Regions from separate parts of the Homo sapiens genome. Here regions 2, 3, 4 and 5 are each linked to region 1. Evidence: fine-mapped expression QTL. A gene starts in region 1. Each other region holds a variant in brackets. All regions are shown on one strand. Distances are between the middles of the regions. Region 1 holds the start of SWINGN (SWI/SNF complex interacting GAS6 enhancer non-coding RNA). Region 2 has its middle 15 kb from the start of RASA3. Region 3 overlaps LINC00452 (long intergenic non-protein coding RNA 452). Region 4 has its middle 15 kb from the start of CFAP97D2. Region 5 overlaps C13orf46 (chromosome 13 open reading frame 46).

Evidence for each region. PIP is the estimated chance that this variant, and not a neighbour inherited with it, causes the effect. A credible set is the group of variants that fine-mapping cannot tell apart.
Region 2: its variant is the best candidate, but not a certain one, in a credible set for the expression of SWINGN in whole blood (INTERVAL, PIP 0.54).
Region 3: its variant is the best candidate, but not a certain one, in a credible set for the expression of SWINGN in fibroblasts (GTEx, PIP 0.63).
Region 4: its variant is the best candidate, but not a certain one, in a credible set for the expression of SWINGN in whole blood (TOPMed, PIP 0.56).
Region 5: its variant is the best candidate, but not a certain one, in a credible set for the expression of SWINGN in blood mononuclear cells (TOPMed, PIP 0.63).

The regions. Positions count from the first base shown.
Region 1 is chr13:113,925,417-113,932,036 of GRCh38, reverse strand. It overlaps SWINGN (SWI/SNF complex interacting GAS6 enhancer non-coding RNA), which reads left to right and starts at 3,046. Exons shown (of 1, transcript NR_047495.1): 1 at 3,046-5,523. It also overlaps a transcript of C13orf46 not described here. RefSeq lists an enhancer at 1,031-1,100.
Region 2 is chr13:114,144,600-114,151,219 of GRCh38, reverse strand. No RefSeq gene overlaps it. Among named protein-coding and RNA genes, the nearest start is that of RASA3, 15 kb to the right of the region's middle. RefSeq lists enhancers at 1-423, 2,331-2,510, 2,841-2,900. The variant G/A (reference allele first, on the strand shown) is at 3,018.
Region 3 is chr13:113,905,058-113,911,677 of GRCh38, reverse strand. The region is part of intron 3 of LINC00452 (long intergenic non-protein coding RNA 452); the gene reads right to left. Among named protein-coding and RNA genes, the nearest start is that of LINC00452, 13 kb to the right of the region's middle. The variant G/A (reference allele first, on the strand shown) is at 3,123.
Region 4 is chr13:114,160,681-114,167,300 of GRCh38, reverse strand. No RefSeq gene overlaps it. Among named protein-coding and RNA genes, the nearest start is that of CFAP97D2, 15 kb to the left of the region's middle. RefSeq lists an enhancer at 4,649-5,549. The variant T/G (reference allele first, on the strand shown) is at 2,719.
Region 5 is chr13:113,962,711-113,966,710 of GRCh38, reverse strand. It overlaps C13orf46 (chromosome 13 open reading frame 46), which reads left to right. Exons shown (of 7, transcript NM_001365455.2): 6 at 1,717-1,784. Among named protein-coding and RNA genes, the nearest start is that of C13orf46, 9.4 kb to the left of the region's middle. The variant G/A (reference allele first, on the strand shown) is at 2,059.

The DNA.
Region 1 (6,620 bases):
ATACACGCTGTGTTACCCAGGACAGAAATGAATTAATCTACAGTGACAGAAAGGTCAGTGTCATCAGAGGAGCAGGAGGGTGGAGGGACGGGGCAGGGGCCAGCCTGGGGGAGGGGATGTCCATGGTCTCGATTGTGGTCATGGCTCTGTGGGTGCAGCAGAATGTCAAAACTTATCAAACCGTACGTCTTAAATATGGGCATTTAATTGCATGTCAAAAAAATCTAAACAAAGCTGAAAATGGACAAAATACCACAACCAATGACATCTGACCGTAAAGAGATGGATTTAGGTAGAAGGAAGAATTCTTTAACACAGAATATGGGTCTCTGAGGGAAATGTTATCTCGTAATTTTCTCACTTTTGGTGTATTTAAGCTGTAGGACAAGGAGTGAACCCTAACATTTGGTGAGAGTCTGTGAAACACACTAGGAACCCCCATGCTGCTTGCGAGTTACTTCCGAGAAACAGCAGAATGTCACACCCTGTCACCCGCAGGTGCCGTCTGAGGGGCGCTCATCCCCACCAGCCCGAGGGCCTCCCCGCCAAGGGAGGGGTGTACTCCCTTCCACTTGGCGTCTGCTTGTGCATTGCCCCTCCCTGAACTCAAGACCTGAGCCTCTCTCGCCTGGACTATTTGGAAAGTCTACAAATGGAAGAAGGGGTGCTCTCACTGAGTTGTGTCCGCACAAGGGAAACTGTCCAGGAGCCACAGAAGCAACCGCAAAGTGAGCCTCTCAGACGTGGTTAAAGGGAAGCCAGGCAAAAAGACTGCACGCTGTTGGGTTTCATTTACTCAAAACCCTAAAACAGGCAGAATGAGTCATCTGTGGTAAACCAGCATTGGGGTTACCTCTGGGGGCCGGGAGGGAACCCTGGGGTGCCAGTCACGTCTGGCGTCTCGGCCTGGGTGGTGGGGATGGCTCGCCAAGCCTGTTTGTTGCACACGTGGCATGTCAGCAGAAACACGGGGCAAATACACACGTGAACACAAGAACCCCGGGTCCCTCCCTCATCTACCCAGCGACCCTCAGTCACCCCAGCCGGCTCCCTCTCGCCACCCACGGGCTTTCTGTGGAGGCCCCAGCCTGGCCCTGGAGGCCGTGACCCACCCCGCCTCTTGCCTGAGGTCAGCCCAAGAGACCTTCCTGTCTTCGGCCTGGAGAAGGAGCGGCCGCCAGGACCACCCGGGCCTCAGCTCCCTGGGAGGGCCCCTGGAGGACCGGGGCTGCTAAAGTCCACGGGCATCACCGCATCTAATCCAGGCCCTTTGATGTGGGTGATGTTGATACTCCCACTTTACAGGTGGGGAAACCAAGGCTTCAGCTTCCGTGGCCAGGGGATGAATGGGAGTGTGGTCTGGATGGTGGCTCCTGGACCGGAAGCATGATGGGAGCCATGAGGAATGCAGGTTCTTGGGTCCTTCCAGCTCTGCTGGATTGGATGCTCGTGGGGGCTCAGGGTCAACACAACCCCCCAGGACTCTGACCTGGGAAGTGGAGCAGCCTGATTTGGAGGCGAGGACACACCAGGAGGCACCTTGCCCTGTGGCCACTGCACTGAGGCTTGAGAGATCACTAGAGACAGCTCAGCCTCAGTGCTCCCGCGCCCCCGCCTCGGTGCTCCTGCGCCCCCGCCTCGGTGCTCCTGCGCCCCCGCCTCGGTGCTCCTGCGCCCCCACCTCGGTGCTCCTCCACTCCCACCCCGGTGCTCCTTCCACCTCTGCCTCACCCGATGGACTGTGCCTTTGCGTTTCTTGTGCACAAATCCTGCTGAAGTCTGGGCAGCTGTGTGTTTGATGATGGGCTTGTAGGAGAGAAGCATCTGGACTGCGCCGTGCAGATGGCGCTTCTCTCCAGGCACAGTCACATTCCTGGGAGGTTCCTGGAGGCCTCCGAGCCTCGTGCAGACCCAAGGCTGCCTCACCACCATGGCCACAGCCCAGTGCTGGCTGCCGGGCATCAAATCTGCAGAAATGCACGTGGCATAAAAGCACCAGAGACATCCGTCCAGAGCCGAGGGCTCCTCCCTGGCCCAACATTTTGTCCACGTAAGTCCACTTTTTGGCTGCTGCTCCCAGGCCTGGCAAGAACGCAGATCCCCACAGCCTCCTGCTCCCTGGCAGCCTGAGGACAGTGTCGTAGGCCTGGGATCCTCGGGCAGAACTGAATGCAGCTTTTCCATTGGAGGGCGCTGGGCCCACATGGCAATCACAGGTATGGCAGATGAACTCACGGGATGCTCCGGGACTCCAGGGGCCTCAGGAGAAAGGCCCACTGGCAGCGGGTTGCCCAGGGCTCCAGAGGGGGGCTCCAATGTGAACCAGTTGCTTGTGGCACAGCGGGTCACCCAGGATGGCCCTGCGTGGTCAGTGATAACAGGCAGTCACTCACAGCGCGACTTCACCCATGGTCACTCCCGGTGACCAGCACTGCACAGCCTGGGCTTTCGTCCCACATGGCACCTCCCTGTCCAGCCTTGGCCCAAGTGCCTGGGAAACAGACAGGGCACCGTGTGCCTGAACACACTCGGACAGTCGAGGCCCCCAGGAGAAGCAACAGGCAATGACTCGGTCCCCAAGAAGCTGAGCCTGTCCTTGCTGGGGTCTGTCATCTCCTCTTAGCCCCGCCAGGCTCCTGAAGCTGCCACATGTGCAGCGGGAGGTGGGTGGTTTGGGAGCAGAGCGAGGCTCTGGATGGACGGGCTTTACCACCAGCAGCCACCACCACCTGCTCTGCAGGGCCTGGGCCAGCCCTGAGGAGGTGGCAGACGGAAGGAGGGGCAGCACTGCCTCAGGTCTCCTTTACTGTCTTCCAGACATCAGCTCAGGGAGAGTAGGCATGTAGCACTGAGAAACAGGGTTGCTCCCCATGGCTGCCTCTGCTTCCCTGCCGCACAGTGTCTGTACACGGCCTGGGGACCTGCGAGGCCAGACCGCAGGGCAGGGGCCCACGGCTGTGCCAGCTTCTCTCCCAGGCCGTGGCGGTTATTACCTCCTGACTTGGCAGAGCATCCGGCTACTGGAGCCCATTGGTTCCGGCCAGTGCAGTCAGGACTTAGCTTCCCAGCTGTGATCTAAATCCCAGCCTCCCAAAGGCACAGCGCCTAAGTTCTCCCCTGCCAAGCTCACAGCCTTCTCCTTGGCAGGCTGCCCTTTCTCCTGCTGGACCAAACCAAGGAGCACGGTGACCCAGGGACACCACACTCGGTGTCAGCCTCTGAGGCCATGGAGCCACGCAGACCCAGCACAGGATTAGAAACAGACCTTCCCGGGAGGCAGAGAGCCAGGCCTCCTGGTTTATAGCATGACAAGGCAGCACTCAGGAGGACGCATCAATCCTTCTCCATGTCAGCACCTGTGACTGTGACCACTGGTGAGGTGGACATGCTTCTTTTTCCATTTTACAGATGAGGAAACTGAGGCCAAGGGAGGGTCAGCAGCCTGCCCTGGGCTGACTGGTGATGCAGCGAGGGTGGGGTGTGGGAGGGTGGCGGCGGCCCTTGCAGTCCCTGGGAACCTGCACCTCTTCCTGGGCGCTGTTCCCCTCTCTCTCCCAGGACCCTTGGGCCTGGCGTTTCTTCACCTGCGACCATCCAGGAGCTGGACCTGCCCTAGGGCGTCAGTTTCCAGGGAAGCCTCTGGCCTGTGTGTGAGCCTCCCCACCTGCCCGGCCACGGCCTCCACAGGCGCCCTGCGCAGCCCCGCCCCTCCTGGGGCAAAGGCTTTGCGAAGACTTTCTTCTCTGGCTCATCCCTTTAAGGAGGCATAAAAACGAACCCCGGGCCTCACAGGTCCGGAATGCGCCCCCCTCCACGATGGGAGCTTCTTGGCCTTGGCTGTGCAGGGGCCGCGGCTCCTGGGGGTCTGGCCGGATCTGCAGTAGTGCTGAATGAGCTGTGGCCAGGAAGACGCAATGAATAATTGTCACTTAAAAGGATAAACAGAAATTCCATTTCCCTTTTAAATACTTGAACATTTCAAAACATCTGGAGGACGCGATGCTTTTCCTTCCAAGCATCTCCGTGGAGTTTTGTGGGTTACCGCAGAGGATCGGCAGCATTCCTCTCTCAGGGAAAACTGGCCTGAGCATTGCATAACGCAGGCAGACTGCACCCCTCACGTCGCCTGGGGCCACATGCACATGTTTCCAAGAGACTTGCTGGAGAATCTTCCCCGGATCTTGACAAAGTTGGACATGGAAAGCACGTTGGTCCATCCAAGGTCCACAGAGCGACCCTGGCTATGAAAAATCATCCTCCGAGTGGGAGTCTGTCTGCCAGGAGTGAGGTGACACCGCACATGGCCTCAGGAGCTGGAAACGCTGGTGAATTCAGATGCAGCCAAAGCTTCTAACTTAGTCACAGTTATTAATTATTCTTGGTCTTATTGGAGCAGGAACCACTGCCATGCATCAGGCCAGCAAGGCTCACTCCCCACCGTAGGATCCCTGTGTAGACGGTCGCTCCATCAGTGTAGTTGGGTGTGTGGAGCAAGGGACTGGGCTGACCCTACCTTCCAAGCATCGATGTGGCCTTCAGCAGAGCAGGAGGAGATAGCCCAGGACTTGTACTTTGCAGTTGAAGTGCCAGACCTAAGAAATGCAAACCTGAGGATGGAAAGAGGGTGGAGAGGGGGGAGGTGTCTGGATTGGCCGTCCAGAGCAGCCCCAGCTGCAGCAAGTGGAACTTGGCTGGCTGCCTCACAGGCCTGGTGGCAGCGTCCCCAGCGAGGAGCCTGTCCCACATATGAAGGTCCCCATACCCTTAGCCCCTAGCTGAGAGTTTCACTGACCAGAGCTCCCTGAGTCCAGGGCTCCACTCAAGGGACTGCTGTCCCCGTTGGTGAAGAAGGCCTGTTGGGGCCAATGCTTCCCCCCACAGGGAAGCGGAGCTGTATTTTGTCGGACAGAACTTTGCAAGCCTGAAACAGCTGGTGGTGGCCCCAGAGCCAAGATCTGACCTCACTCCAGAGTTGAAGGGCACAGAGAAGGCACAGCTAGAGGCGGCAGGTACCCCTCAAAGCTCTCGGGAGAGGGTACAAAGTGGGACCTCCCAGCACCCTTGGCCTCCAGGCCTCAAAAGCCCTGAGAGGGCTGCATGCAAGGAGACAAAGCTGGAGAAGGATGTGGGAGGCAGGTGGCTAAGAAGACAGGCTGGAAAGGGACGTGGGAGGTAGGTGGCTTTGCTCTAAACAGAATCGTCTCAGTAATGTGACACTGCACATGTATAGGTAGGCTCGCTCATGGGCATAACCCTCTAAAACACACCTTTTATGGAGTGAAATTCACTTAACAGCCATCTTGAAGCATATACTTCGGCGGCATTTGCTGGATTCACGACGTTGTGCAACCTCTGCTTCTCCAGTTTCAGAACATTTCATCCCTCCAGAACAACAGCTCATCCCCATTAAGTAATCACTCCTCATTCCTTCCCCATCCTCTGGAAACCACAGATCTGCTTTCTGTCTCTATGGATTTGTCCGTTTTGGATATTTCATATAAAAGGAATCACGCGGTGTGCGAACGTTTGTGTCTCACTTCTTTCGGTGGAAGCCACATTTCCAAGCCTCATCCCAGTGGTGGCCCCTGAGTCCCCTCAGTGTATCAGTGTCTCACTTCTGTTCACAGATGCATAATATCCCACCCCAGGGACCGGGCACCATTTGTTAATCCCTTCACCTGTGGTGGACACCCGGTCGTCTCCGCCTGCCGAGACCAGCTCGGTCAGGGAGACCCTAACCCAGCGGCGCTAGAGGAATTAAAGACACACACACACACAGAAATACAGAGGTGTGGAGTGGGAAATCGGGGCTGACAGCCTTCAGAGCTGAGAGCCTTGAACAGAGATTTACCCACATATTTATTGACAGCAAGCCAGTGATAAGCATTGTTTTTATAGATTATAGATTTAAAGGCATTCTTTATGGGAAATAAAGGGATGGGCTGGAAATAAAGGGATGGGTTTGGCTGGTTACCTGCAGGAGGAGCATGCCCTTAAGGCACAGATCGCTCACGCTATTGTTTGTGGATTAAGAATGTCTTTAAGCGGTTTTCCGCCCTGAATGGGCCAGGCGTTCCTTGCCCTCATTCCGGTAAACCCACAACCTTCCAGCGTGGGCGTCATGACCATCATGAGCATGTTACAGTGCTGCAGAGATTTTGTTTATGGCCAGTTTTGGGGCCAGTTTATGGCCAGATTTTGGGGGGCCTGTTCCCAACATCCGCCTTCCAGCTGTTACGAAGGACGTAGCTACGAGCGTCTGTGTGCGCGTTTCCGAGGGAACAGGTTTTGTTTCCATGGGGCGTGTGCTTAAGGGGTAAATGCTGAGTCCCATGCTAAGTGTATGCCTAAACTTTTTCAGGAACCACCAAAGTGTTTTCTGCAGCAGCCACACCATTTTACATTCCCACTCCACATTCTCGCATTTTTCTACTTAAAAAAACTCCAGGCAGAGGGAACAGAACAGGTAAAGACCAGAGGCCCAGTAGGCGGTGCTTGGCTGGAGCTCACCAGGGGCTGGACCAGAGGACACGAGAAAGACGGGAGTGGAAGCTGATGCCCAGTGGTGGATGGCAACGAGGGCTCGGGTGGCTGGGCCGTGTCGCTTATGCAGAGGAAAC
Region 2 (6,620 bases), 220 kb before region 1:
GCCATGTCTCTGCCAAGGCCTTGCACGTGTGAGTGAGGCCCTCTTCCACCCCAGCCCAGCCCAGGAGTCTCAGCCCCGAGAACCTTCCAGCCAACCCTCAGAATTTCGGGAAATGATGCTGCTTCCTTTACACCACTAGGCTGGTGGTGGTTTGTTATGTAACCAATTGAGAGATCTTTAAAAAGTTAATAAATAAAGCTAAAGTTCTTCAGTGCATACAATCCAGAAGGGGAATTGGTTCTGTATGTTGATGGTGGAAAGGAACACAGCACTGTGTAGAATTTGGAGCCAAGACCTAAAGAAGCAAAGCCTATAAAATTCATCTTTGGCTCCAGGCATAAAATGGTCTCTCAAAGTTTTAGGGTTTTGTTTGTGTGTTTTGCTTTTTGAATGACTACTCTTTGAAAATTCTTCTCTAAGAGAGAGAAAACTTAATATAAAAATTCCAGATTAGGTGTTGGGGACTCATTTGTTATCTTCTCTTGTGCACATACATCTCGAAGGAAGAAGTCTGCAATAAAAATACAAAGTTCAGCACAATTAATGTCAGCAGTTTTTCTCCACCGTAGGATTAATAAAGGATCCAGGTAAGTGGTTCTCAAAGTGTGGTCCCCAGGTGAGGTCCCCAGGTGTGATCCCCAGGTGAGGTCCCCAGGTGAGGTCCCCAGGTGAGGTGACCGTCCCACTTTGCCCTAGGGCTGCTCCAGCTTCAACGCTGAAAGTCCCAGGTCACAGGAACCCTCCTTTGCCCCTGGCAGACTGAGGGGCTATCACCCTATTCTGGGACCAACAGTAAAGCATCACTTGGGAAGTGGATGAAGTGTGAATTCTGGGCCCCACCATAGACCTGCTTAACAGGATCTCTGGCGGTTAGGGTTAGGGTCAGGTCTGCTGGGCAGTGATAATGCAGCTAAGGGCGGGGTCCTGGGTCCAGGTTTAATCTGGGAAGGGTCTGGGAGGGACTGGGTTTAACAGAAGCACCCAGGTGCCAAGCACTGGGGCAGAGCTGGAATCCCGTCAGACGGTGGGCAGACCTGCAGCCGACCACCACTCTCTGCCGAGGGGAGGGGTCCTGACAGTGCCGTGTCCACCAGACTCGAGAGTGGGGAGTCTGGTAGCTCCAGGGGAAGACTTTCCAGGATTCTCCTTTCACTTCAGGTGTGGCTAGTGTTTCCAGCAGGTGGCACATGCTAATTGTCCCTGTTGGAAAATTCTGAGTCAAGCCAGTGGTTGAAGTGGGTCCTGGAATACCAGGTGTGATATATTTGCAAAACACTTGTGGTCAAATTATGCCATCAGCAGTGGTGAAGGGAAACTTGTAATTGTAATAAATTAGCACTTGAGTGTAGTCCCATCATTGGAAAGAGCATGGCCTTCAGCCCCAGTAACACTGAGATTGGTAAGCAGATGTCTTTTGAGGAAAAAAAATAAAACAGTATTCTGAAATCCAACACCTGTTTATTTAATCACATTTTCACATTTACTGTGCTTTCTAGATGATTTGCCAAGGTTGTCTGGTCCTGGTAAAAAATGTATGAAATGCCTCCACCTGAACAGAGAAGAAAATGTGATCCCAATGAGAACTGTCTGCAGCATCACACTCACCGCTGTGTCTGAGAACAGGATTTTCCATTTCGGCAGTGGATCTAAACCTGATGCCCAGGACCTGTTTTAAGCAGTGAATCAAAGATCACAGAAGTTAAAGTTTGGCAAGTTTTCGACGTCAAGGAGATGGAAAGCCTAAAATCAGTTTCTGAACCACTAAATTAGAGGGAACAGCCTTGCTCGTGAATTTTCCAGAATTCCACAAACAATTAAGAAGACCCAGGGTAGGAAGCACATACAATTTGTTTTCTTTGATGGTTAAGTTGGTTTAAGGCACAGAGTTGAGAAGACAGGTAAGAAGAAGCAACTGTTCAAGCCCCAAGGAGAACCCAGAACCGACCCAGCCCCCGAGGAGAACCCAGAACCGACCCAGCCCCCGAGGAGATCCCAGAACCGACCCAGCCCCCGAGGAGAACCCACAACCGACCCAGCCCCCGTGGAGATCCCAGAACCGACCCAGCCCCCGAGGAGATCCCAGAACCGACCCAGCCCCCGAGGAGATCCCAGAACCGACTCAGCCCCCACGGAGATCCCAGAACCGACCCAGCCTCCGAGGAGAATCCAGGATCCACCCAGCCCCCACGGAGATCCCAGGATCTCCTTGTTTTTTAATCGAAAACTTGTTTTTCTCTCCTGTTTTTAATTTCTTAAGGAGAAAATTTGAGACGAAGACAATGGCCACCTAAATTTGTGTGATACCCTGTTATTTCACAGTTGCCTTACAAGAATAACCGTGTCTCATTTGTCACTTTCTGCTACCTGAGAAACCACTCTGTATGATGTTGACGTGTGACCATGTCCAGGTGCAGCTGACGTAGTCTCAGAGACGTGTCTTTGGAAAAAACAGTACACAACAAATGATTATGAGCCATTCTGAGCATGGTGGTGAGCTGCAGCCAGCAGAACACACCCAGCCCTGCCAGCAAAGGAAGCTTGGTCAACCACAGCAGCCTGTATGGGCTGCGATGGAAACCATGTTGAGTCCCCACCTCACAGTTGAGAAAAGCAACATAATTTCACATGATGCACTAGCCGTGGCGCCTGCTACACACGAGCTCTGGAAACCTCAGCTGCCCTCATCGCTTCCTGCCATTCTGGAAGAAAAGTTAAAATTGGAATTAGCAGTAACACGGGCCTCTCAGAGTTTTGAATAAATAGTGCTGTAACTCATCCTAGTAACTTAACTGGGAACCAGGCATCTCAGCTGGTGTTGCAAAGTCACGCAGGGCTGGGGATCCCCGAGCCCCCTGGGTGAGCTGGGTCTTGCCTATTAGCTCTGTAGACAAGGCAGGTTCCAAAGGGCAGTGCGAATGTGCTTCGAGTTTTACAAAATTCTGTGAGTTCAAAGCCTTTGGATATCTGAGTCTGTCTTAAGAGAGCCTCAAGCTAATATTCACACAATTGTGTGTCTC[G/A]GTATACAGTTTAAATGCTGGCATTTAGCTTAGAGAACAAAGAAAACGTGAAGTCAAAGAAGGAACAAAAGCATTATATCCTATCAAAAAATAACCAAATACTATTCAACCATTTTGAAAATTTCTGATTCTGGCATTGGGGAAAGTGGCTGCAGATGACGGTGATGCATGCCCAGCAAGTGGAGGAGGCCGGGGGCAGAATGTTGCCCAGGTGCTGGGTCGGTTCTGGGTTCTCCGTGGGGGCTGGGTCGGTTGTGGGATCTCCTCGGGGGCTGGGTCGGTTCTGGGGTCTCCTCGGGGGCTGGGTCGGTTGTGGGATCTCCTCGGGGGCTGGGTCGGTTCTGGGGTCTCCTCGGGGGCTGGGTCGGTTGTGGGATCTCCTCGGGGGCTGGGTCGGTTGTGGGATCTCCTCGGGGGCTGGGTCGGTTCTGGGATCTCCTCGGGGGCTGGGTCGGTTCTGGGGTCTCCTCGGGGGCTGGGTCGGTTGTGGGATCTCCTCGGGGGCTGGGTCGGTTCTGGGATCTCCTCGGGGGCTGGGTCGGTTCTGGGGTCTCCTCGGGGGCTGGGTCGGTTCTGGGGTCTCCTCGGGGGCTGGGTCGGTTCTGGGATCTCCTCGGGGGCTGGGTCGGTTGTGGGATCTCATTGGGGGCTGGGTCGGTTCTGGGATCTCCTCGGGGGCTGGGTCGGTTCTGGGTTCTCCTCGGGGGCTGGGTCGGTTCTGGGATCTCCTCGGGGGCTGGGTCGGTTCTGGGTTCTCCTCGGGGGCTGGGTCGGTTCTGGGTTCTCCTCGGGGGCTGGGTCGGTTCTGGATTCTCCTTGGGGGCTGGGTCGGTTCAGGATTCTCCTTGGGGCTTGAACAGTTGCTTCTTCTTGCCTGTCTTCTCAACTCTGTGCCTTAAACCAACTTAACCATCAAAGAAAACAAATTGTATGTGCTTCCTACCCTGGGTCTTCTTAATTGTTTGTGGAATTCTGGAAAATTCGCGAGCAAGGCTGTTCCCTCTAATTTAGTGGTTCAGAAACTGATTTTAGGCTTTCCATCTCCTTGACGTCGAAAACTTGCCAAACTTTAACTTCTGTGATCTTTGATTCACTGCTTAAAACAGGTCCTGGGCATCAGGTTTAGATCCACTGCCGAAATGGAAAATCCTGTTCTCAGACACAGCGGTGAGTGTGATGCTGCAGACAGTTCTCATTGGGATCCACCTTGTGATTCTCATTTGGGTCTAATAGCCTTTCTTTTTTTCAGTTCCTTGTTATTAAGTTGCTGTTTGAATGGGCGTGTGGGTAATCTCTGTGTGTGTGTGTTCGTGTGTGTGCAAGGGAGTTCACGCGGGGGGATGTCAGGCCGGCACACAGGAATGGAAAGGCTGCCCACTGGTCTCTGGAGCTGTTGAGGCTTCAGAGCGTCTCTTCCACTGCCGCCCTCCAGGGGCTCCCTCGCAGAGAGCGGAAGGCAAGGGCTGCCTGGGCTGCCATGGGCCATGGCTGAGACTGAGAAGTCTTTCCAGGATGGTAAGTAAAGCAGGTGGGCACGGGGTAGGTGGGCACAGGTGAGCTGACAGCCAGCAGCCCAGGGAGCCCCGAAGTTCAGTCCATATTCTGTCTTCAGATTTGGATTCACTCCCCGTGGTTTAGAAACAGTGCTGTTTGAGGTTAAAAACAAAACAAACAAAAAGCCTGATTTTCAATTCTCAGAATGGATGAGAAGAGTGCCCTATGGAGACTGGACTGTTTTTTCTTCTTAAGTGAATAGCTCAAGGGGAACGTCCAGGTGCCGGCCTTCGGGGGTCTCTGCGCCACTGGAGCGGGGGCTGTTGGGCCTGCGGAGATGCGCGAGTTGGAGTCTGAGGGTGGGTGTGGGTTCCCACCACCACGGGCACCACCATTTCTATCACCAGTTGGAGAAGTCCGTTTACCTGTGGAGCAGATTCTCGAGTATTGGAGGAAACACTGTGGAAGCATCGACCGTTGAATGCAGATTCGTGTTCTGTTTATTACTGCTAAGTGAGATGCAATTAGGAATGAGATATCTTCACCCCACTGAGTCTGGGAGGGTCAATGAGCAGTCACATCAGTGAGCAGGCCAGGTGGTGACGCGTGTTACGTGCGTGTTACTCAGGAAAATAAAGCAGGGCAGATGCAGGTAAGGGCCAGTTATTTGACGTTGTGTAGTCGAGGAAATCTCGCTCGCAGGTGTCCTCAGAGAGAAGCAACACACAGATCCCTGGGGACAGAGCATTGCTGCAGAGGGAATTCCTGCAGAGAGCAAGACAGAGCATTCCTACAGGGGGAATGTGCAAAGGCCCCGGGAAGGGAGAGACCCGTTCTGCTGAAGGGAAAGCAAGAAGGCAGAGGGTTGGAGCCAGGAGGCCTGGAGCTGCTGGGTGACGCCTGAGCCCCCGGGCTCCTGTGTGCACGATGGCGCTTTGTGATTTGTGCCAAGGGGGACAGGAGGACAGTCCAGGGTTTTGGCAGAGAAGTGACATGGCTCCTTGTAAATCTTCACAGGACCAGGATAACATCACAACAGGTAGTTAATTCACCACCACACATTTATAGTCTGAGGTCCTTGGACTGTATGAGCTACAACAATGACAGATAATCCAGGTGAGTGCCTCACAAACCCCTGCTGCCCCAGCTCCCACCCGTGGCATTTAGGCCAAGAAGCCCCATTGGTCCCCAGGGACTCTCCAGCCCCTGCCCTCCTTCCTCCTGCCCGGACCAGCCCATCTGTCACAGGGGGCTCTCTAGCCACCTGCCTCTCTTCCTCTCTGAAGGCTGCATGGAGCTGCTTGTCTTTGTAGCTGAACACTCAGGCCCCTGCTTGGTCATCCAGCCAGTCATGGTGGGAGTGGCAAGAGGAGAGCCTGAGATGATGAGGGGTCAGTGATGCTGTCTTCCGGTCCATGGCTCATTAGAGATACCCTGTAATTTGCAGTGTTCTTTCTCCAGGAGGAACAGAGCCCCTCTAATTATATCTGCTCTTATTGAAACCTGAAAAATGCAGGCAGAGTGATAAGAGAATGAAACTGTGGCTGCACCTTCCTGGCCTCCCTTCAAATATGTAAAGGGTCCTAAGGCGAGCCCTGGCTGGGGGGTCTTGAGCCCATGGCTTCTCCCTCGGTGCCTTTCACAGGTGGTCCAGGGCAAACGCTTGGTGCCCATTCAATTAAAATAGCGAAGGAGATGAGCTACAGCTTCTGCAAGGACGGCGTGGGGCTGTAGCCTCTAGGGCCTTAGTTAGAACCACATGAAAACACGAATGCTGGGGAGTAAAATTGCAGGAAATGAATGCAGGAACAGACATGGCTCGGATGTAGCAGAGGTGGGATCGGGAGTGATTTCGTTCCAATTCCCCGATGCTGCTTTCATAGCTGTTGGGGTTGAGTTTGAGGTGTTGTAGTTGAACCTGTGTTGTAAGGGCGGAAAGCCTCATCAGCCCAGTGACTGCACAGCCACGCGGAAGCCTCCCCAGTCAGAGGCGGCCTTGGAGGGCAGCTCGCTGTTCTCACTCAGTCCTGATTCTCGGCTCTCTCCTGACTCCCCAAGGTTTCTTCAACCAATTTGAAAGGGGCAAATAGGAAGCTCTGAAGGACAAGG
Region 3 (6,620 bases), 20 kb after region 1:
AATAATTACATTAAATGTAAATGGTCTAACTGCATTAATTAAAGACAAACATTTGTAGAATGGATTAAAAACTGTGACCTAACTATGTGTTAGTTACAAGAAACTCACTTCAGACATAACAATATAGAAGAGTTGAAAGTTAAAGAATGGAATAAAGTTTATCACGTAAACATTAAGCAAAAAAGAAGCAGAAGTGATTATAGTACATCAGATAAAATAGACGACAGAACAAAGAAAATTGCCAGAGATAGAGAGGGACATTGTATAATGATAAAAGGGTCAATCCACCGAAAAGACATAGGAATGAACTCTAGATATGTATGCTCCTAATAGTGATATACAAAGTATGTGAGGCAAAAATTAATAGAACATAAAGGAGAAATAGACAAGTCTACAATTATAGTTGGAGACTTCAACATGCTTTTCTCTATAATTGATAAAATAACTAGACAGAAAATCAGCAAGAACATAGAACCCAATAACACCATCAACAAATAGAATCTAATCAACATTTACAGAACACCCACTCAACAACACCAGAATATATGCTGTTTCCAAATGCCAATGGAATGTATACTAAGATAGACCATATCCTGGGCCATAAAACGAATCTCAACAGACTTAAAAAGAATTTTAAACAGAGAATGTGTTCTCTGACCACGATAGAATCAAGTTAGAAATCAATAACAGAAAGATAACAAGATGTCCAGATGCTTGAAAACTAAGCAGTACTATTCTAAAGAATCCATGGGTGACAGAGAAAGTCAAAGAAAATCAATGCACTAAACTGAATGACAATAAAAATATAAATCAAAATTTAAGTGATATACCTAATGCAGTACTGACAGGGAAATTTATAATACTAAATACCTATATTAGCAAAGAGAAAAGTTTCAAATCAGTAATCTAAGCTCCCGCCTCCAGAGCCTAGAAAAAGAAAAGCAAAATAATATTTTACCCAAAATAGCAGAAGGAAAGAAATAATAAGGATAAGAACAGAAATCCACAAAGTTGAAAAAAGAACAACAAAAGAGAAAAATCAAGGAAACAAGTAACTTTTTCTTTAAAAAGATCAATAAAATAGACAAATCTGTAGCAAGACTGACCAAAAAGAGAGAAGGCATAAATTATCAATATTAGAAATGAACAGGGGCCATACTAAAGACCCTGCAGACATCAAAGGATATTAAAGGAATACTGCAAACAATTCTATGTAAATATGACTACTTAGATGAAATTGACCAATTCATTAAAAAAAAAAACCCGACAACACATCCAATATGAAATAGATCATTTGAATAGTTTTACAACTATTTAGAAAATTGAATTTGTAATTTAAAAATTGCCAAAAGTGAAATCTCCAGGCCCAGATGGTTTTATTGGAGAATTCTACCAAATGTTTAAAGAATTTATAATTCCACCCAATCTCCTTTGGAAAATAGAAGAGGAAAGAACACTTTCCAACTCATTTTACAAAATTAATATTAATACCAAAACCAGGTAAAGACAATAACAAAAAAGAAAACCATAGACCAATGTCCTTTATTGATATAAAAATCCTTTGTTTTTTGTTTTTTGTTTTTTTTGAGACGGAGTCTCACTCTGTTGCCAGGCTGGAGTGCAGTGGTGTGTTCTCAGCTCACTGCAACCTCCACCTCCCAGGTTCAAGCGATTCTCCTACCTCAGCCTCCCAAGTAGCTGGGATTACAGGCACCTGCCACCACACCCAGCTAATTTTTGTATTTTTAGTAGAGATGGGGTTTCACCACGTTGGCCAGGCTGTTCTCGAATTCCTGACCTAAAGCAATCTGCCCAAAGTGCTGGGATTACAGGTGTGAGCCACTGCGCCTGGCTGAAAAAATGAACATTGATTGATATTATACACCAAAATTAACTCAAAATGAATCATAGCCCTAAATGTAAAACCAAAAACTGTAGAACTTCTAGAAGAAAGTCTCAAAGCCAGCAAATATTTCTTAGCTATGACACAAAAGACCATAAACCATTAAAGAAAAACTTGGTAAATTTAAAATTTTTGCTTTGGGAAAGACACCATTAAGGGAACAATAAAGCAAATCATAGAATAGAGAAAATATTTGCAATACATATATCTAAACTTGTGTCTAAGATAAATAACTCTTATGCATCAATGAGAAGATGGCGAATGACCCAACAAAAGAGTGGGCAAATGATTTAGACAGACATAAAAGATATATGGGTGTTGAATAAGCATATCAGGAAAATGCAAATTAAAACCACAAAGAGACTCCAGTACAAATCCACTAGAAAGGGTGAAATGAAAAAGACTGACTGTAGCTGGTATTAGTGAGGATGTGGAGCAACCAGAAAAGCCAGCACATCGCACGATTTTGGAAGACAGTTTGAAAGTTTCCACCTATCATATGATGCAGCCATTCCCCTTGTAGGTGTTGATCCAGGAGAAGTGGAAAGCCAAAAACTGGAAACCACCTAAATGTTCATCAACAGAAGGTGGATAATCAGAATGCAGTACGTGTAATGCAAAAAATTCAAACAAACACACAGTGACAGCATATCAGCGGCTCCAGGTGTGGGGCCAAGGGGCCCTAGCTGCAGAGAATCCGCAGAGTCTGGAGGGAGGGCTCGGTCGTTCTGTATCTTGGTTGTGGTGGGTCATTGAATTGGACACTCCAAAGGGTTTATTATACATGAATTATACTTCAATAAAGTTGATCTTAAAAACTTAAAAAGAAATTTCTAATCAAATTTTTAGCAAATCACATCTAGCCACATAGTAAAATAATAATACATGAGACCTGTCTGTGTTTATCTTAAGATTGCAAGATTGGTTCAATATTAGAAAATATAGCCATATTTATACATGTTATACATTTAAAACACTAATTCATCACATCAGAAAGGGAAGTAGGTCAAAAAGAGGAAATCCTTTGGTTTTCATCATTATTGCTGAAAAGGCAATGATATAATTTAGCAACCTTACCTGAAAAATAATTACTGATAACCAGAAATAAAAGGAAACTTCCTTAACAAGTTTTTGCTTTTTAAAGTCAGTGGAAAACGCACTTGAATGTGTTCTACGTGCCAGCTTTTATTCACCCTCCTGGCTGTACATCGAAAGCCAT[G/A]AATCTCCCTGCTGAAGACAGGCTGCCTCTCCCTGGAGGCTTCCCATCTGTTTTTGCCCAACACATTTCCACAACCCTTTAGACTTAGAGATAACCAAGAGAGAAGAAAGGTGGGGGAGGAGGAGGAAAGTCTTCTGCATTCCTGGGCCCCACCAGGCCAGCAGATCCTCCCGGTGGGAGCAGAAGTGGGGGTGGGGAGGCTCAAAGAGCAGCACCTGCAGGGGCAGGTGCCGCTGACACCCAGGGAGCCCGACAGGACCCTGCCCTGAGCCCAGCTGTCCCAGAAACCACCTGGACTTCAGCCAAGCGCAGTCCCTGTAAGGTATTTAATGGCATATCCAATCCACGAAGCACCGAAAGGCTCCCTGGCTTCCTCCTACCGGGACTTGAGAACTTCTTCAGCCACAGAAGCAACTCAGGCTCCCCAAATCTATCAAAGAAGACCACAGGGACGTCTGCACCATGCACAAATTGAGAGGAGCCTCCTGACCCTGAACGTGAAACACCCGCACCCTCAGCCCAAAAACAGGGGGCTTCTCCAGCTCAGGGCTGCAGCAGGAGACCGTCTGTAGCCACAGGTCCTCTAGAAGCTCTACCAGTGCAGCAAGAGCAATCAGCAAATAAACAAAGTGTGCAGTATTTGAAAGAAAGAAAAAGAAACTATCACCACCTGCAGATGACACATCCAAGCGTCTCTTTGTGCCAGGCCCTGTATACATTTTCCAGCCACTCTGTCTCATTCCACACACATTTTGCAGAGAATCGGGACCTGCCCAAGGCTTACGTCTTACAGATGCTACTCCTGGAATGCAAACGCAGGTCTGGCTGATTCCAGAGTCAGAACTTCAAGCCAAAAAACTTTCCCAAACACCCCAAAGGATGGACTCAAAGTTAGTAAAATTAAGAGAGGAAATTACAATGATGGTGAGTAAAATCAATATAGAAATCCAATAGCATTCCCAGATGCTAGCAATAACCACCTCGCAAGCAAGAGTGAGGGGGAGCCTGTTCGAAATAACAACCCAGCATCTTAAATACCCAGGACTTGTTAGGCCAAGAGATGAGTACAAAATTTATATTGAAGAAACAACAAATTTTGTAAGGAACTATAGGAAAAAATTGGGTCAGTTGAGAGATGTCAGCATGATACCAAAGGCAGAAACCAGAGATGGGAGGACCGGTAAGTCTGAGAGCATAAAAATATAAAACCCACCATGTACACATTTGTAAAGCAAACAGAAATATAAAACTCCACTAAGGGACATGAAAAAGCAGGTGACTAGATGCAGAAACATGCTGAACACTTAGGAGCCCTTTTATTTGTTGAAATATTTTCAAATAAGTGAAAAAATCAGGTAAAGCAGGAAATTGACAATGATACATATACATCTCAAATGCTTCCTTTTAACTTAAAATATATGAGTCTGAATTGATTTGATTCTTGTGAGAACATCTCTGTGAGGTCTGCTCTTTGAATTTGTTTTTTCCTGGCAAAAAGAAAAGAAATTTTAAAAATCTTATAATTCATCACTCATGGTTTTACGCTTTATTTCCTTAAATTAAGGCAAGAATTAAAGATGCTGTCATGGTGATCTGAGGGCAGAATCCCTTTGAATGTCATCTTCCTCCAATTTTTACAGCTTTCTTGCATATATTTGGTTTTGCAGCATTAAAAACACTTTGCCAGTTTGTCTCCACCAAGCCTTCCTGAGCGCTCTCCCACTCTGCAGTCCTGGCCCATTCCCAAGAGGCAGAGATGCATGCAGAGGGCACCAGCGGGCCTGGCAGCCACCCTTGGCTCTGCTGAGCCTTAGCTGTGGGAGAGGCCACCTGGGCCCCCGGCTCTGGATGTGTGTGGAGGGATGGAGGGTGCAGGCTGGCCTGGCATGTCGGCTATGTGTGGCCAACCAGAAGAGCTTGGCACCACCCTTGACAGGAAAACTCAATATTTGATTCCCTAATTCCTCCCCTAGGAATTTTTCCTAATGGAACTCAGTGCCCACTTCATAGTAGTGGTTATCTCTGCATAAATTTTATTTCCTTCTTTGTGTTTTCCTGTATTTTTCAAATGGTCTGCAATCTACACGGATTACTTTTATAATTAGAAAAAAATTAATTGTAAAAACATTGTTTGAAGTTTAAAGAGTGCCATCTTGGTTACTACTCAAATCTTTATACTGTCCTTACGTTTTTCAGTGTTAACCCAAACTGTGACGCCCATCTCCCTAGGACACATCATAGGAAGGCCTGCTTCAGTGAGAATGCACTCGAGATAGGAAATTACCCGTGTTGATAAGCAGGGCCTGCCTATGTTTTTAAATTTCAGGCTCCCTAATAAAAGGAGTAGGATAAAATGCCAGCATGCTGACATTTCAGGACACTGCCGTCCGGCGGGGGACTGCGCACAGCGCTGCCCACTCTGTTCTGACCCCCACTGTCCTCTGACTCCTCCTGGGTTGTCCTGCCATGTTCCCATGGGGAAGGTGTCACACCCAGTGCCAGTGGGTGATGATCAGAGGGGATATGACAGGGCTCTAGGTGGTACCTGGATGGATATTTTTTAAAATAGTTACTAATTTATTTTAGTGTGCTGTAGAAAAAACCAGGCAGCACAATGGACCTTCAATCTCACACAGATGTATTTAAATGTATTTAAATGTAAACATATTTTACATTTAAATGTATTTAATGAGTCTATTGAAGATGCCCTAGGTAGACAATAATTCAGAGCACATGGATATGGCAAAACTTTGAAATCTGCACACAGAAGGGTGCAATTTGGGAAACTGTCATATGAAATCGCACTTGGGCTGCACATTACGAACACGGCAGGTCGTATCTGTGTGTTTTCATTGCTTTTAAATCTCTTTTAGCAGCTCATTCTGTGCAGGCACCGGTTCTGATTTACTTAAGAAGATGGTCTTAACTTCCCTTTGATGGGTATCGTCATCCTTTCTCTTAGTTGGTTTCAGTATTATTGCAATAGGATATACTGAAGTTTTGAATAATTTATTAAACGAATCTTTACTTCCTAGATACAACTATCTTGACTTTTTTCTAAGTACTACACTTTTGAAGTAAAATAAAGCCTCACCTCAACAACAGAAGTGGGGTCCAGAACATCCCGTGGGTAGGATGTGGGAGCTTTCCTGCAAGGTCGAGTGGCCCCTGCTGGGACCCTACCTCTGGCTTAAACTGTGACGGAAAGATTCTGGGTATTGTGGTTGCCTGGAGCTTCCACGATTCAGCAAGGATTCCAGGACTGTCCTGGGGAGTAGCTGCCGTTTAATTAGCCTGACAGAGAGATCGCTCCTGGAGAAGCCTGTAGACGCAGGACTCCTGCCTTGTTGAAGGATCAGATGTAGCAAGTGAAGAGGGAAGGTGAGGAGGCTGCCAGGCAGCCGGTCAGTGGGTGCCGCTTAAGAGAAAGTGTTGGCCAGGACTGCAGGGGCAAGAACCAGGACACAGGCCTTTGATTTGTTACCTGAAGGGCCTGCT
Region 4 (6,620 bases), 240 kb before region 1:
TCATACCTACTGAGCTTAGAAATTCAAAAAAACACAAAACCACTGCCTGCAAGCCCACCCTGCTCACAAGATGGATTCTCTTATAAAGCAAACAAGAGTCCCTCGGCCGTCGGTGTCTGAACAGCCCCTCCCTGGGACCTCATGGTGTCTGACCGCCTGGCTGGCGAAGGCGTCCTTGCTTCCTCAGCCCCACATTGTTTCAGGCCTTGGATGTCCCAGGGAATCACAGAGAGGAGACCACAGACAAGAAGGCACCGGACACTCAACTTCCAGGGCCCTGGAGGCTTCCCAGGAAGGCTGCCTGGGAAGGAGGCCAGGCACCATTCCTGCTCTCTGCTCCAAGCCAGCTGAATAGGGAGGTGATCTGAACGTTCAGTTGGTTTTTGCCAGGAAACCTGGGCAACCCCGATGCTGGGGCAGCCATGCCAAGAGCTCGCAGCCCGTGGTGAGGAGAGGGAGCAGGGGCTGCAGACCCATGCGGGCAGAGAGCACACCAGAGCTGGAGGCTGCCTGGTTCCCTTACTGTCTGCAAAAGCACCACGTCCTGCCCGGGGTCTCCGCCTCGGTTCCTTTTTCATCTGGCCATAGGATGCAGTAAGACTTTCAGAACTGAACAACAACAGCTTTTGTGCTATTCTGAGCAGCTATTTTTTTGTCCCTAGTTACTGGTCCTCAAGTCTGGCCTTAGGCAAAGCTCATGTCATCTGCAGGGGACGGTCCCTCCGGGGCTGGGGCACAGGCTGGAAAGCAGCCAGGCCCTGGCGGAGAACCCATGGGCAGTGCCTGCCAGGAAGGCAGAGGGCAGCTGAGGCTGCAGGCGGGGTCGGGGGCGGCGCAAGGCACAGAAGCCTTTGATGCTCAGACCCGCGTGTGCTGAGCCATCTCAGCAGCCCTTGGAGCCTGGGCTCTGCAGGGTCCCACAAACTAGACAGGATGTGTGTGTGTGCTTCTGAGCCCTGGGGCCTCTGTCCAGGAGACCTGCAAGATGCCCAGTAAGCTCTCCAGCGCACAGAGAGGGGACAGGACCCTAACCCCTCAGCCCACGGCCCCTTGTTGCCATCTTAATGCAGATGCAATTGTAAAATAAATAATCATTTTCTCCATCACAAAAACAAGGAAGCAGTTCATGAGTATTTTTGGCAACATATCCTTCCCTTCAAGAAAAGGAGAAAATTCAATGAAATACAAACTGCACCCTCTCCTCCAACTGAGAAGGAAAATGAAATTGAGAAGAAAGTAGTATTCGTCTGCTTAGTAAAGAACTGCCTTGGCCTTTAGAAGGTCAGATGTCCTAGGTGGGAACTGTCACTGTGACCAGGAGGAGGTGTGGATCCAGGGCTTCATTTGTGGTCCAGCTTGGTGGCTTGGGTCCAATCCAGCGACTGCGGCTCCTCAGTCCATCCCATCTTAAATGCCTCCTGCTGCACCAAGACCTCCTCCCACTTCTCCTCCTCCTCCTTCCCCCAGAATCGCTTATCACGATGGCCACTAACCTGGAGAGAGTGACTCCCAGCAGGTATTCCAGACGGAATCCCTGATTAAAGCTGTGCATGCTGCCAAGCTTCCGCCCGTTTTCACATTTTAACACGCAGTCCTAGGTGGGAGCAGCCTATCACCTAAGAGGCAGAGTTTAGAAGGCCACTGATGAAAAGCGATATTTTGGGTCAAACAATTCTGTGCTGTGGGGAGATGTCCTTTGCGCTGTGGGATCTGGGTGGCACCCCTGGCTTCTAGGATTCTATGGCTGTAGGTGTGCCTCACATCCAGTGTGACAGCTCAAAGAGTTTACAGGCGTTGCTGTCCCCTGGGGAGAGATGGCAGCAAAAATCAACCCCAGTCGAGAACCACTCTGTCAATCTAATGGGTGAGAGTTCACACTGAGCACCTAGGTTGGTTCTGAGGGAGATTGTTTTGGGAAGGTCAGCCTATGACATCCGAGCAGATAGTCGTCGCCTTTTATGCGGGTGACATGGAGACCACTTTCTTCACCTTCCAAGCAGGCTAGGAAGGGCCGACTGGCCGGGCAGGCTGTAGTCCTGAGAAAGTTCGAGTGAAGGCACTCTGCGCTTTGCCAGGGTCTGTGCATGGTGAAGGGGCCGTGTGGGTGGGCTGGGGTGAGGAAGACAGGCGTGAGGGTGAGCTGGGAAGCTGGGGGGCAGGTGGCCTGGTGTGCAGTGTGATCGCTCCCACACCACTTGTCCCCAGGATGGTCACTGAGCTCTCAGCACCGAACTGCATGTCTGTTTCCTTGTGGGAACTTAGCGTGCACCCACCAGTAAATTATTTTCAAATTATTTTCTTACTGGGGCTCATCATCTCTTCCATGAATGGGAAGTACGAACTAAGCACATGCCCCAGCGTGCACCCCAGACAGCGACGAGGACGCTTGTGCTGGCAGCAGGGCAGGCGGCAGGAACCCCAGCCAGGAGCCCAGAGACTCGGGGGACTCCAGCTCCGTGTGTCCCTGGGAGGCTGCTTGTCTTTGGACCTCAGCGTCCACATCAGTAAAATGCAGGACGTCACATCATAGCTGTGTCACAAGAGGCGAATAAGACCAGAGGTAGAAGCACTGGGAAAGGACGGTGCTCCTGGGCCTCGGGCTGAATGGTGGAGGAGCTGGGTGCCTCTGGCTTCCATCCTCCTTGAATCAAGTTCTTGCCATAGACAGCACAGGGACATGCACTGTGCCTTCCCGAAGCAGCACCTTTGAATCGGGGG[T/G]CAACTCAACTCTAACTTAGAGAAAGTGGTTGAGATGAGCTGAGATTTACCTTCTTCCATAATAAACTTTACCTTTTTATTCTAATTCTGCCCATTGAAGTCACACTGAAGAAACGACGTCCTTCTGCACACGAGGCCCCTCAGTATTGAAGACGGCAGAGCACACATCCTTCCCCCATCTGCCTCTCCTTAGGCCACGCTTCCTCAACCCCTGTAACTCCTCCTGCGTGGCCAGGGAAGCACTGCTTGGAGTTGTAATTCACAGTGGTGGTCAGAGGCAGGGAGGAGAGGGTCCCTCGCTGGGTGCAGAGTCCGGCGGTGGTGCTCAAACGGTGCATGCCCCCACCCCACCTAAGGGGCTGATGAGCCCCCTTGGTCCCGGCAGCCCGCTCAGTGCCACATGGCCCCCTCGGTCCCCCTGCCGGGTATGGAAGGAGCACTTCTACCAATGGAATGTGAATGGTGTAGAAAGAAACAAAAAAACAAAGCAAGAACCGTCCAGTCCTAGTCTAGGCTCGTGTTTTCAGTAAAGAAACTGTGTCTCCCAGGAGTTGACAGCATCTGCTTGAGGGTGTACAGCTCCGTCGTCACTGGGGAAGGCTGGTGAGGGTGCAGCCTTCCTCACTCCTTATGCTTTTCCCAAACTCTGGGAAAAGCTCATCTCCGCTATCTTTCAGTTACATTCCCATTAGGAACGGGTGTTGTGGACGCCCTGCAGGGTGTCTGCCCAGCTCCCCACGACCCACAACCCACCCAGTCTGCCCTGTTCTTAACACATGACCACTCCTGCCCCTGCCCTCGGCCTGGGCCCAGCTGAATGGATCACGGAAATGATCTCTCTAGAGACTGGAAGTGTTGGGGCGCAGCTGGTTCTCTCGGCATGTGGCTGGCAGAGACACTAGGAGACTGTGGGAGATGAGATGAGGGAGAGGCAGGGGAAATAGCCTTCAGGGGAGAGGACTTTGAGAAGAGGGACCAAGAAGCAGGTCCAGGAGGCCTGATGGGCTCTGGGTGGCTTTTCCAGCCCTGGCTTTAGATCTGCAGGAAGTCCAGCTGCCCTGGGTCTGTGGCAGACTCTGCAGTCTTCCAGGAAACTCCTTTTCTGTCTTGACCTGTGAATGGAGACTGTGTTGGAGGCGTTGGCAGTGAGGTAAAGTCACTCCTGTCTCCCCCTAGTTTTGTACATTGGTAATATTTGTTCTCCTGGAAAAATAGAGACAGGAACCCCCGCCTTCTTTATTTTTATTTATTTATTTATTTTGAGATGGGGTCTCACTCTGTCACCCAGGCTGGAGTGCAGTGGCGCGATCTCCACTCACTGCAACCTCTGCCTCCCGGGTTCAAGCAGTTCTCCTGCCTCAGCCTCCCGAGTAGCTGGGATTACAGGCGCCTGCCATCACGCCCAGCTAATTTTTGTATTTTTAGTAGAGACAGGGTTTCACCATGTTAGCCAGGATAGTCTCAAACTCCTGACCTCAAGTGATCCACCCACCTTGGCCTTCCAAAGTGCTGGGATTACAGGCGTGAGCCACTGTGCCCGGCTAACCCCTGCCTTCTTTAATAGAAAAATTCAGATTTCTAATTGACTGGCCTTCTTTATTTTCTTTCGCCTTCAGAAAAACTGGGAACAATATGGAAGATATTTATGCTCATGCTCCCAGTGGAGGAAATTTTTAATGCCTCGAACTTCCTAGAAGAAGAGCTCTCTGTTGTGCCTTGATGGCCGCATGGCCGTTGCTTGCTAAGACCCAGCATATGCAGTAGCCTCAGACAGAAATCCAGTCGCTCTGGTGAGTAGCCACCCATCGCTCGTCACACTCTCCCGAGACTCTGGCGAGTAGTCACATATCGTGCATCACACTGGTTTTGAAAAAGGACCCGAGCGTCTCTCCTGAGATCCCTGCACTCTTCCCTGGCGGCCGTCACTTCACCAACAGTGAGCTAAGTTCGTGACGCTTGTTTCTCTCAGGACAAAGCAGAGATTTAGGTGTCGGAAAAGCACTGCAGGCACCTTATCCCTGGACCAGAGACTCCCTTGGTCTGCTTTGTTTTTAAAGTAGAAACGGTCATTGTCAAAATGGCCCTCAGGCACAATATTTACACAGCAGAGACCCAGTCGCAGCCGCCTCACACCGAGGTCAAGGGGCAGAGACAGCAGGAACCGTGAGCTCTGGTTCCTGAGCCAGTGTCTCCTCCCTCTACCGAAGCCCTCGTGTTTGCACTCTCTTGACGAAACACCGAGCTATTTAAGTGGGAATAATATAGTTCCTTCTGTAGACAGCACAGCTGATGCCGTGGTCAAGGACAAAAATGTTAAAAGGTTTGGCCTTTAGTCGAGGACGGGCAGTTGTTGCTTTCCTGGAGGTAGCTGGACGCAGGCGGGTTTTCCTCCCGTGAGGAGCACAGCAGCCTGGGCGGGTGAGGAGGAGCCAGGCTGGGCAGGGCGGCTGTGGGTTCTCGACTTCCTCCTCCTATTCCGGGTGCCAGGAGCTGTTTACTGCCCTGTGAGAGCTTCCTGACAGCAGCTTCACTGGCCCCCTTCCAATCGAGTTCCTGCCCTCTCATCTTTGTGGAGACCACGCTGACTATGATTTCCGAAAATTTACTTGTTCTCTGCCAAATCCAAGGATTCCCACTCCCTCCCACCCATACCCTCGCTTTGCTTCTTCCCGGCTCTGCACACTCCCCAACTTGCTTCTGCACCAGGGGCCCCTCTGGGGAAAAGCAGATGTCCCTTGAGCTAAAGAAGTTGCAGTTCACCCAGGCTGGGCTGTCCTGGAGGTTGTGGGCACGTGAGCGTGGGAGGGGTCGTGTGTTCCTCCACGCTCACCCAGAGCAGCCCCCTCTCGGCTTCGTGTAATATGCTGGTGTCATACATACTTAGGTCTGTTGGAAGAAAATGTCCCAGGACTCACATAAATGATAAAAACCGTCGTTCCAGGCAGCCCATGGCTGGCATCTTGAGTGCCAATAACGTGCTCCCTGAAGCTTTCCCTGGTGGACACGAAGCAGCACTTCGCTCGTGATGGCTGATTGAAAACATGCCGGTGAACTGGACGACGGTGAGCACGACCCCCGCCCCCCGCCGCTGTGGCCGCCGCGGGGAAGCCTGCGCGTGAGTGGGACACACTTTGCCCTTCGTATTCTGAGGACAGAGGTTTGGCGTGTTAGCGAGGCCGCCAGAGTTTCACTCACACCGCGAGGCGTTCTCTAGTTAGAGGCGAGAGGGCACGACCGGAAGCGGAAGCCGCGTGACTGGGGGGGCGGCGCCGTGCCCGCCTTGGGAAGCTCGCTTCCGGTGAGCAGAGGGATGGAAGAACGCGTGCGTTTAACGTGGCTTCTGCTGGCTCCGCATGAAACGGGTTTCCGAACAAACCATACTGGGTCCCTGCCACATGTGCGTTGACCTCATTGGAGGCGAACCTTTGCTCAGGAAACTGATTCACCCAGTGGGTGACAATCAGGAGGGGCACGGAGGGCCAACGTGAGCGTTCTCACAAGCTGGGGACGAATGACGAGGCAGTGGAACAATTGCGGGATGAGGGGGGGTCACGGTGAGTCCTGCTTTGAAAATGAGTCAGGAGTAGATACAACATTTGTAAAGATGACCTGCTACCAAAAGGCCTTTGGTAAAATTCAACATCCTTTCATGTTAAAAACTCTCAATAAGCTAGGTATTGATGGAACATACCTCAAAAGAATAAAAGCCATTTATGACAAACCCACAGCCAATAACATACTGAATGGGCAAAAGCTGGAATCGTTCCCTTGAAAACTGGCACAAGACAAGGATGCCCTCTCGCACCACTCCTATTCAACACAGTATTGGAAGTTCTGCCCAGGGCAATCAGGCAAGAGAAAGAAATAAAGGTTATTCAAATAGGAAGAGAGCAAGTCAGACT
Region 5 (4,000 bases), 36 kb before region 1:
AAACATTATCACCATCATCATTAATATCACCATCATTATCACATCACCACCATCATTCCCATCAGCAGCATCATCATCATCATCACTATCATGACCATCATCACTGTCACCATCATCATCACCATCACCACTATCACTATCACCATCATCGTCACTATTACCATCACCATTATTACCATCATCACCTTCACCATCATCACCACCATTATAATCACCATCACCATCATCATCACCATTATAATCATCACCACCGTCATCATCACCATTAATACCATCACCATCATTATCACATCATCATCATCATCACCATCATTAATACCATCACCATCATCATCATCACCATCATTAATATCATCACCGTCATTATCACATCACCACCATCATTCCCATCACCAGCATCATCATCACCATCACTATCATGACCATCATCACCACCATCACTGTCACCATCATCATCACCATCACCACTATCGCTATCCCCATCATCACCACCATTATAATCACCATCATCATGACCATCATCACCATCATCATCATCACCATCACCACTATCACCGTCACCATTGTCATCATCACCATTATAATCACCATCATCACCATCATCATCATCACCATCATTAATACCATCATCACATCACCACCATCATTCCCATCACCAGCATCATCATCACCATCACTATCATGACCATCATCACCACCATCATCATCATCACCACTATCACTGTCACCATCATCACCAACATTATAATCACCATCACCATCATCATCACCATCATAATCATCATCATTGTCACCATCACCATCGCCATCATCACCATCACCATTACCACCATCATCACCATCACCATCATCACCACCATCACCATCATCACCATCACCATTATCACCATCATCACCTTCACCATCATCACCACCATTATAATTACCATCATCACCATCACCATCATCACCATCACCATCATCACCATCATCACCTTCACCATCATCACCACCATTATAATCACCATCACCATTGTCACCATCATCATCACCATCACCATTATAATCACCATCATCATTGTCACAATCATCATCACTGTCATCATCACCACCATCACCAGTATAGTCACCGTCATCATCACCACCATTATAATCATCATCATCACCATCGTCATCACCATCAACATTATCACCACCATAATCATCATCCTTATCTGTAAGAAGAAGAGGCTGACTTAATGACCTGTCTGGGCACTTCCAACACTAACATCTGGGGTGTGTTCCTCCATGTCTTTGCTGTAGTGAACAGTCATCATTCTGGAAGTTTATTGAAGTTCTTTCTTGGCAAGTTTAAGCTCCTTCCTGGGGGTCAGTTATTTTCCAGACTGTACCTTCTCTCCCTTTTGCCCTCAGAGCCACAGAGAGAGCTGGTTGTTAACCCCCAACAAGGCTATTCTTGGGGCACATGAGTTCTAAGGACTCAAGGAGGGCCAGTCAGTGGCACAGTTGGGCTGACAGGCCAGACCTGGTCTTCAGTCCAGGAGCCAGGCCTCATCAAGGGTGCAGTTCCTTGGTCAGGTTCCCCTAACTGGAAATGTCCAGTCAATAGAGAGCCCTGTCTGATGGGAGGTCATCCAGCCTCTGTGCCCTAGCCTGATCCTCCAGCAGGTCCACAGGCTATGCCTCAGTGCCCGTGGCTGACACCTCCCATCCCTTAAATGTCTCCACTCCCCACAGGTGGTCACCGATGCCAAGAAGGAAGAGAAGCCGTCCCAGATGGATGTGGAAGATCTGTCAGAAGACGAGTGAGTGATGCTTGTGGGCTCACACTAGGTGGGGGTAGGAGGACTTTCCCCCCACCACGGTCTCTGGTGTGCCCACCATGCCTTGTGTGTGGTGGGCAGAGCCGAGCCCAGGCGGTCCCCCCTTCTCCCTGGGCACTGCCGAGGCTCAGCACCTGCCGAGCCTGAGGGACTGAGGGCAGGGAACAGGACATCGGACCTTCGAAGGGCTCAGGGACGAGCTTCACGATGCCCCACCTCACCCCATAACCAGGCCGTGTCTCCTACCCACCAGCCA[G/A]GAAAAGGACCTGATGAGAAGGGGGAAGAGGAGGGAGAGTAGGGAGGAAGGAGGGGGGAGAGGTGATAAGTGCATGGTACTGACTTCTCCTGTTTAGGTTTTAGCTGCAGACTTGGGTCCTGCAGGTAGTGGGAAGCCGTGCATACACGGCTGGTGTCACAGCCAAGCAGGCTTCTCTCACAACAAGCCTCGGGCCCTGGGGCCGGGGCTAGGCAGCCTCCGAAGAGATGATCCGTGTCCCCAGGCTGGATGCTGTGTAGGTCCAGGGAAGCCCCAAGACTCCCCGAGGCCCGAGGCCCTGAAGATGGGTGTGGGGAGAGAAGACACTGGCCCATTGAAGGGGGCCCATGGATCTATAGTGTTTTATTTTAAGCAACACACAAAAATACAAAAAGCAATTGTCCAAATGCCTACCACTCAGAATTAACAGTTTATCAGTATTTTGATTTCTTACAGATTTTTTTAAAGGATGAATTGTTCTATCGGCTTTATAAAACAGTCACATGATACTAAACCTTCTTTCAGCCTGTAATCCCAGCACTTTGGGAGGTTGAGGTGGGCAGATCATGAGGTCAGGAGATCGAGACCATCCTGGCCAACATGGTGAAACCCTGTGTTTACCAAAATACAAAAAATTAGCTGGGCGTGGTGACAGGTGCCTGTAGTTCCAGCTACTAGGGAGGCCGAGGCAGGAGAATCGCTTGAACCCAGGAGGCGGAGGTTGCGGTGAACCGAGATAGCACCACTGCACTCCAGCCTGGGTGACAAGAGCGAAACTCCATCTCAAACAAACAAACAACAGTTACATTAACATTTTAACCAGTCATTTACAATAACGGGAATTATGTGGAATAGCACAACAGAGAGAAATGTTTAAAAATCACCCCAGCTTCCACCTCTTAAAAGCACATGGGAGCACCTGACTTTCGACACTGAGGACAGTGGCTGCAGCTGAGGCTGAGGACAGGGGCCGTGGCTGAGGACAGGGGCAAGGCTGAGGACGGGCGAGGCTGAGGAGAGGGGGCTGTGGCTGAGGACAAGGACTGCGGCTGAGGACAGGGGCCGAGGCTGAGGACAGGGGCGAGGCTGAGGACTGGAGCGAGGGCTGAGGACAGGGGTGAGGCTGAGGACAGGGGCGAGGCTGAGGACAGGGGCCGAGGCTGAGGACGGGCTGAGGCTGAGGACAGGGGTGAAGCTGAGGACAGGGGCCGAGGCTGAGGACAGGGCCGAGGCTGAGGACAGGGGCGAGGCTGAGGACAGGGGCGAGGCTGAGGACGGGAGAGGCTGAGGACGGGCCGAGGCTGAGGACGGGGCGAGGGCTGAGGACAGGGACCGAGGCTGAGGACAGGGGTGAAGCTGAGGACAGGGGCCGAGGCTGAGGACAGGGCCGAGGCTGAGGACAGGGGCGAGGCTGAGGACAGGGGCCGAGGCTGAGGACAGGGGCAAGGCTGAGGACGGGCTGAGGCTGAGGATAGCGGGGAGGCTGAGGACAGGGGCTGCAGCTGTACCTGCCAAGCGGCATCCTTGCCCAGGGCCAGCTTTGAGAGCTGCAGCCCTCGGCCCCCGACTGGTCTGGCTTTGCTGACGGATTGCTGCTGTGATGATGACAGCCCTACCTGCGCTACCTGCTCTCAGATTTTTATGTCTCCAGGGAGAGAGAAAGTCCTCGAGAACATTGCACTCTGCCCCAACTCAGCAGAGTCTCTGCCTCTTTTGACTCCTACCGTAACCAGGTCACACCAGCTTTCACTAGGACATTGGGGTTGTTTTGACTCCTGAGTCTGGGCTTAAAATGGGCAGGTATTTTCCAAGTACAGCTCTATTTTTCTCATCGTTTCCTGATGATGGATTTGGCACTCGGCACACAGCTCGATGGCTGTTTTCTGCCCCAAGCTGGACAATCCTGGGTCGAAATCTCCTGGTCTCAGCCTCCATCCCCCTT